Linked DNA regions of Homo sapiens. The protein of the gene in region 2 purifies or fractionates together with the protein of the main gene of each other region. This does not show direct contact. Each region holds a gene or a part of one and is shown on either strand. Other genes may lie near its edges.

Region 1 (4,146 bases), on a different chromosome or scaffold from region 2:
TGAAATATGGCAATAAGATAGCCCTGTTTTTCCTGTACAAAAGGATCTGTTATTCTGTGTACTTTTCTGCTTAAAATGTTTCAAAATTATTATTTTAAAACTTGGAGTTGGAAAAGGTGATTTGTCTCAAGTCAATTAATCCTTTACAATCTGTTTTCTCATATGTTAAATAGGCATGTGAATACATGCCCAACCTATTTCACTGGGTTGTAGTGTTTTTGCTAATCACCAAGTATTAGAATACTTGAATACTGCGCCAATTAGTTCAGTCTGTGAGACCACAGTCCAGATTAGGATAAGGTTAAGGGTTAGATTATCGTGCAAACCTTTTAACTCTACTTCAGGGGCAAGACTACACTCTTACTTTCCAAGAAGCATAAAAGATACTCTGGTTACAAGAGGAGCTAGGCAAGTCTAGGTGTGATGTCTCAATCCATATCCAGTAGAACTACTGAGCAAATAACCTTAGTAACTTGATGATGGGCTACTAAACAATCTCTGTATAAGGAGGCTGGCACACCCAGTACACACACACACACGTTTTGTTTGGGGTCTGTAATTGTGGTTCACGTGGAGGCAGACGTTGTTTGTTTTTTGTTGGAGGAGACATCTGAAAACATCTAATCTCATCCTGAAGCGCCCAGCTGGTTTCAAACTGCTTTATTTCAGGTGCTTCTAAAAGACTTGGTGAGTACAAGGAAGTGATTCTGCTAATTTAGAACAAACCCATCGGTAGTTAAAATTTAATCTTAAAAGAAACTTGGAACCAAGCATCTAACCAAAAGAGCTAAAAGCAAAGTGCTAGACTCTGGGATAATACCCACAATATTCTCTAATCACTGAACTAAACAAAGATGCTCCTGCGCTCATAAGGCTAAAAACAAAAATAACCTTTAAAAATGGGGGGTCTATAATCTGAACTCTAAGAGTAACTTGTAAGGTCTTCTTGATCTCCCTAAAGCCAACAATTTTGAAGCGTATTTGGAAATCGCTCATTTCTAATTTTTATTTCTCCCACTCCTCACAAGAACCAGGAAATATAACAGACCCTTCCTTCCTTGAATTTAGTTAAGCTTTAACTAAAACTAAGCATTTAACTAAAGGTAAAATGTTTGGTCTCTTATTTTCAAACAGAAAAATAAAGTCTGTATTAGCCACTCAATAAAAAAGCATAATGTCAAATCAGAAGTCTCTAGAGCAGACCCTAGTCAGCTTCAAAGCACTTTCACAGAGTGAATGGTCTTAAGCGTACCATAACTCAAAGCCCCTAGATTAAGTCTTTCAGTATAAAGTAGCATATACATTTAAAATGTTATTAAATTTCTAATAATTAGATATTAAAAAGACTCAAGATGCTGATACTTTGTAGCTTACAGCATTAAACCAAAGAAGAACCAAAAACTGAACAGTATCAAATCCCTATTACATACATATCTACAGTCATCAAGAAACTACCGGTTTATCTTTTCTTTCACTAAGGGGCCGCCTGCATGTTCACGGAAGTTGTAGTAACTTAAGAAAACCAAAACTGTTATACAGTGAAAACAGTTTGTATGCAGATAAGCTGGTACCAACTGCTTCTAGACAGATGCAATTACAGTGTAATATTTCTAGCAAAGTCTGGTAAGGCTACGCCTGCAAATCACTGACCAAAAATGGTAACAGTGTGTGCACACTAACGAAAACGACAAAATGTTCCAACTGATAGTTCAGTTGAGAATACGTTTTTAAATAGCTAATTAGAGTGACAGTGTAAAGGGGGAAAATATGTAAATTAAGCAAAATGTCCATCATATAGAATATACTAATGAGCACCTGTTTACTTTCTGGTGACTCCAGTATTTTAATGGTTTTTAAAGCTCTTAAATTTGGTTGTATCAGCATCCCAGCATCATGCCCACACCTTGCGCACCAAGTTCTGGCAGAGTCCAACTGTCTACAGGTCAGAAAAAAAATTCTAACCATACACGGACAGATCGGGCAGGGAAGGGTTAAAACAGACACTGCCAAGCTTGACAAGCACGACGAGAGTGCTGCTGGAAGCCGATTGCCAGATAAAAAGAAAAAAACAAAGGAGCTGCAAGGCCACCCCGTTCTAAATCATGCCAGGATCCTGCTCGTTAGCGATCATTCCGTGCTCTAGGACTGTTCCATAAAGGCTTTATCTTCCTTATTGAGATGGACAGACCTCAAGGGCTGGAACGCGCACAAGTCACCAAGCGCCTCAGCGCCAGCTCTGGGGAAACCCACGCCAACAAGGACGGTGGCCGGATTCCGACGCCCCCCGCCCCCCACTCCCCGGCCTCGGTGTGCAGACCCCCGGATGGATTTCACAGAGCGGGTGGGGGCGCTCGACCCCAGCCAGTTGTTGCAAGGCCGGGTCTGGAGACACCCGCAGAGGCCACGCTCAGGGCGGCGGCCTCGCCCCAGCTGGGAGCTGCGCAACAGCCGCGGATCCACCCCGGGGCGCGGGGGCCCAGCCAGGACGGCGGGAGACGGAGGCCCAGAGACCCCCCCTCACCCGCAGCCCGGACACTGCAGCCGGACCGGGTCCCTCCCCGGGCTGAGGCACGGCTCACCCCCTTAGCCCCGACTCCGCGGCGCCCCAGAGACACACTGCTCCCGGCCGCCTCGGCCCACGCCTCGGCCTCCCTCCTACTCACCATCTTCGCCGCGGCGGTCGCAGGGACGCGGGGGAGGGAGCCGGCGGGCAGCGAGTATGCAGACCGTCCTCCTCACGGCTGCGGGACCGAGAGACCCAGCGCTGAGCTGACGCGGCGGCGCGAGCTTACCCCGGGGCGGGCGCGCCTCAGGACGGAACGCGGCTGCGCACGTCACGCACCGCCTGCCGTTGCTACGCAACCAGCCGGCCAGGCAACGCCCCCCCGGCGGCTATCCAGAGTCTCGGAGGGGAGCTTCCCTCATCTGCTGAAGGCTGCGGGGCAGGGTCCGCCTCACCAGAAAGTGTTTAGGGGTGGGGGTGCGTCCTCTCTGGTCTGCAGGAGGCTAGAAGGCGGACTGGGCTGGCTCCTGCTGGCGAGGGGCGGGCAAAAGATGATGGGGGAGGGGTGGCCTTCCTTCGCCTCCTCGGCGGGGCCACCTGACGCCCCACCCACTGTGCAGGCATGGCCCGCGCGGGGAGGCAGCCACCTGGCCAGGTGTGCCTGCCGCTGGGGCGGGGCGAGGCCGTGGAGGGGAAAAGGAGGGGAGAGCCGGGGGAGAGGGGTACAGAGTGTGGGAAGGAGGGGGATTTGGAGGGGAGAGGCGAGGGGCACATAGTTGGGGGAGGAGGAGGATGGAGAGGGGAGGGAAGAGGTGAGGGAGAGGGGACAGTGTGGGGAGAGGAGGGGGATGTGGGGGGAGGGGCGAGGGGGCACTTAGTGGGGGAGGTGGGGGCAAGGGGAGAGGTGAGGGAGAGGGACACAGTGGTGGAAGGAGAGAGATGTTGGGGGTTGGGAGGGCAGGGCCCGAGGAGGGGGAACGCACTGGGGGAGGACCCACGGGAGCGGAGTCGCGGGCCGCGGCAGCGGGGACGCCTCCCGCATTTTTTACCTACTTTGGTGCGATTCCCGCCGCCCTCCCCTGATTGGCCCAGTCTGGCTTGTCCTGCCCTCGCGTGAGGGGAAAAAAGTCTGCACATTTTTCCTCCTTCCCGAGGCGACCGTGGCCATGCAGAGTGCTCTGTGAGTCACCGTTAATTTCAGGTCTGGAAAAACAAGGAGCATTTATTTATCTTTGGGAACTGCCGGGGAAGGAGGCCGGCGGCGCGCAGGGGTGTGGCTGGGAAAGGCCGCGCTGTCCCGGGACGGTGGCGCCAGCCCCGCCGCTCAGTTCTCCGGGTTTTTAATTTGGAATTGTGTTTTTCTAATGGGCGGTTGCGTCGGAAACACGGTTTTCAGAGGGCCCAGATGAATCCCAGCGTTTTTGCTGCGGGTGTTTTTGTGGGAAATAAAGGGAACAAAGAATTTTATAAATTAATTTAGGTTACCGAGAACATCATGGCCTCGACCAAAACTATTTTAATTCTCCAAATATGAGACTTTTGGACAAGATGGTCAGTATTTTTTTTTCCGGCACTACGTAAAATCTAGGTTGTATGTGGCTTTTGTTCTGCCCCACTCAACATAGGAACCCATTTCTCATTAC
Region 2 (3,500 bases):
AATGCCACTGTGGAGCTCTTTGCATTCTTAGTGCCTAATGCAGTGTCTGGCAGTTGCAAGGGCTCCAGAAACTGCTGTGACTGATTGAAGACTTCTGGCTACTTTAATATTTAATCATTTATCACATATCCCTGAGCACTCATTAACTGCTATGGGGAATGCAGATTCAAGCATTCCTCAATTAGCTTTCAGTCTGAAACAGGGTTAGAAGACAAGTGTGTGAATGACTATTTATGAGGCAGAACGTATCACAAGGAGAATGCCAACAAAATGCATGTTGGCAGGAAAATTGACCATGTCCCTTCCCTGCGTAAATCCCTTCCATGACTTCCCATTAGGTTGAAATCTAAATCCCCCCTACCCACCAACATACATGGCCCCCTCATAGCCTAACTGCCCACATTTCAGCTACACTGGCCTTCAATCTCTCCTCATTGCCAGGCTTCTCTGATTCTGGGCCTCTTCACAATGCTGGTTCCTCCCCAAAACTCTGGCATCTTTTCCATAGCTCTTCCCACAGGAAGAGCTTATTTCTTCAAGGAGGCCCCCTGGGCAGTCCTGGCCAGGTGAAATTCTTGTTCCTTTTAAAAAAATTTTAATAGCATTCATCTCAATGTGCAGTTACATATGTATTTGTGTGGCTAATTTGATGAATATCTGTCCCCTTCACTAGAGAGTGAGTACCATGAGAGTGGGCATCAAGGTATGTGCTCATGGCTGTATTCTCTATGCCTGCATGTCCTAGGCACTCCAAAATATTGATTCAATAAATGAAGTAATGATGGTTTGGAAAGCATTTCAAGGTGTGGAGAATGTTTTAAGAAATGAATAACAAATGGCATGGACTCGTATAACAAAAAGAATTTTGAGAGGTAAAAATGGCAAAGGACAGTGTTTCAGAAGAAGGGACCTCAAGGCTAGCTGGGGGGGTGAAGGGTGTCAGAGAACTCTAAAGGAATGCATGAGGATAGAGGTAGCCTCTGTTTGGCAGATTGGAGGGAAATATAAGGCATAGAAGAAGACAATCCTGGAAAGATATGTTAGAGCCAGAGAGGGTATGGAAGGTCTGAAATGTCAGACTATGATAGATTTAATTTGTAATCAATGAAGAGCCAGTGAAGTTTGTTAAGAAAAGAGGGGCAAGACCAGAGCCACTCTGTCCATTAGTTCCAGGTGAGTGGAGAGGTGTTGGCATAGAAAATGAAAAGAAGGTGACAAACTGGAGAGACCTTACAGAGAAAAAAATGGGTAAGACTTGATCATGAGTAGCTGAATGCTTTCCAAGTGAGGTTTGAGGATCGCCTCCGTCAGAATCTCCTGGGGTATGAATTGAATCAGCAGTGCCCTTGAGACCTACAGGCCAGCATCTCCAGGGCCTGGGCATGGGAATCTGCATGTGAATGGCCACCTTGAGTGGTGCATGGGTACACTCAAATTTCAGCTGTTGGGCTACAGGGTCTATGTGCCTGTACCTATTAGGTGCCCAAATAAGATTCTAAATGACAGAATGAGTCAAAGAATCCTGGGTTTGGACCATGGGAAAGTGGTAAAATGGTGTCAGAGGGATGTCAAGAGGAAGAGCTGGTTTTGGAGGGAAAGTTGTTGAGTTCAATTCAACGCTACAGAGAGTCAGAGATAGCATGCAGACCTCAGAACCAAAGTGTTGAGACAATAGACATGGTGGGATTTTACTCGCTGATTATTTTCAGAGACCACCCTATTTTGGATGTGCTAGTTCTCGACTTTTCTAGAATCAGTATTATAAACCAGATAATCTGTGAAGTAACCCAAGGAAAGGGGCTCCAGTAGGATAGGGATTGAGGATGTTCATAAACTAAGGATGAAGAAGGAGAAAGAAAATCAGTTTTTTACAGATTTTCCACCTGCGTTACAAAGCACCCAAAACCTTTCAGCTTCTGGGAAGTGGAAGGCCATGCCTTCCAGGCATGCACTGAGGTCTCTGGGGCATGTTACACACATCTATGTAAGTGACTCACTGCCGTTAGGGCATGCGCTAGGTCCAAGAAATCCCAGGCCGCTCTTACCAGCATCCCCCACGCCCACCAGAATTTTCCGTAAGGACAAAGAAATATTTGGATGCTCTATTATTGCTATATCTCACATGTCTGGAACAGTGACTGCGCTAAATAGTTGCTCCATAACTATTTACTGAATGTAGAAATAGGACATAGGGCACCTAATTCAGAATCTCGGCCCTGCCATTGACTAGCTGTAAACCCTTGAGCAACTTAATCACTTTCAATTTGTTTCCTTACTTATAAAATGGGGATAATAATAGGTTCTTCATAAGATTGTTGTGAGGATTAAACAAGATAGTGTGTGCAAGGTGCTTGCCATGATGCAGACACATGGTGCATCCTGCACATTGTAATTATCATGTGGTCATCATGATGCCTGCCTCCTCCACTTCTATGCTAACATAGGGTAGAGGGTTTTGTGGCGGGGCTAAAACTCAGCTTCTGTCAAATCATTTAATTCAGCCCATGCTCTTTCTCTCCATCTGACACTTCTCACCACTTTAAAAGACATAAAGAAGGCAAAACCTGCACAGAAAACTCAGAGCTGGAAAGAACGCTCCTTTACCCTGTGCTTATCAGTATCATCACTGGCACAGGGGCCAACCCATTCACCTGTTGATCTGCATGATGGGAGGAAAGAAAAAGAGGGAAAGAAGAAATCTTAAGCCTGCTCTTCATTCTAAAAAAAAAAAAAAAAATGAGGCCTGACCATTTAGAGACTTGGTCAAGGTCACGGAGTAAACAGTGAGCCTGGAATGAGAGCCACAGTTGTTTGTCTCCACTCTCAGCCTGGATCTTCCGCATCCTGCTACTGAAAACCTGGAGTTGGTAGGGTCAGGCATGCTGAAAGGTACAGGGGAAAGTGATGCTGAAGTAAAGCTCTTCAGTCACTGCCCTACAACAGAAAAAGGACAACCCAGTCAAGGTAAATGATGGCAGGTGGAGAGGGGCCCACCGAGGCTTTTGGAAGTGGCCAAGAGCCAGTCCCATCTATCTCACCCCATCTCTACCCTTATTCCAGATTCTCTAGCCCAAAATGCCTAGAGAAGACTGGCATAGAATGCAAATAAGATCAGACCTCTAGGCAGTCTGGGGAAGGAGAAGGGCCCAGGGCAAACAGAGGCGGGCAGACGGGTGTCTGGGACCTCCCAGCCATCTCCCTGGAGACAGGCTGGATGAGGTCAGGAGCCCAGGCGAGTGGAGAGCCTGAGGACTCTATCAGCAGCAGAGCAAGCAACTTCTAAAAAGACAAAGCTCTCATGTCAGGAAATGTCCCCATACAGAGGAGGCAACAAAAAAGGAGAGGAATCGCCTCTGGGCAGGGGACTTCCAGATCTCTTTTGTTTATGGGGATGTTTCTGGTTCCCAGCTTTGAATTATGGCTTAAGGATGGTGGGTAATTTAATTAAACATTGCAAGGGCTTAGCTGAGGTTGCCTGGGAGCCACTGGTTTAAAGTTCC

The links.
Region 1: the proteins of DTX4 (region 2) and DSTN purify together in Homo sapiens (affinity purification with mass spectrometry, with the first as the bait; one large-scale study listed by BioGRID). This does not show direct contact.

Annotation. Positions count from the first base shown.
Region 1 is NC_000020.11:17,568,729-17,572,874, reverse strand, and holds the start of DSTN (destrin), read right to left. Parts: upstream 2,801-4,146; 5' UTR 2,667-2,800; coding exon 2,664-2,666; intron 1-2,663. UniProt on the Homo sapiens protein: Actin-depolymerizing protein. Severs actin filaments (F-actin) and binds to actin monomers (G-actin). Acts in a pH-independent manner.
Region 2 is NC_000011.10:59,175,132-59,178,631, reverse strand, and holds part of DTX4 (E3 ubiquitin-protein ligase DTX4), read right to left. Parts: intron 797-3,500; exon of another isoform or gene 1-796. UniProt on the Homo sapiens protein: Regulator of Notch signaling, a signaling pathway involved in cell-cell communications that regulates a broad spectrum of cell-fate determinations.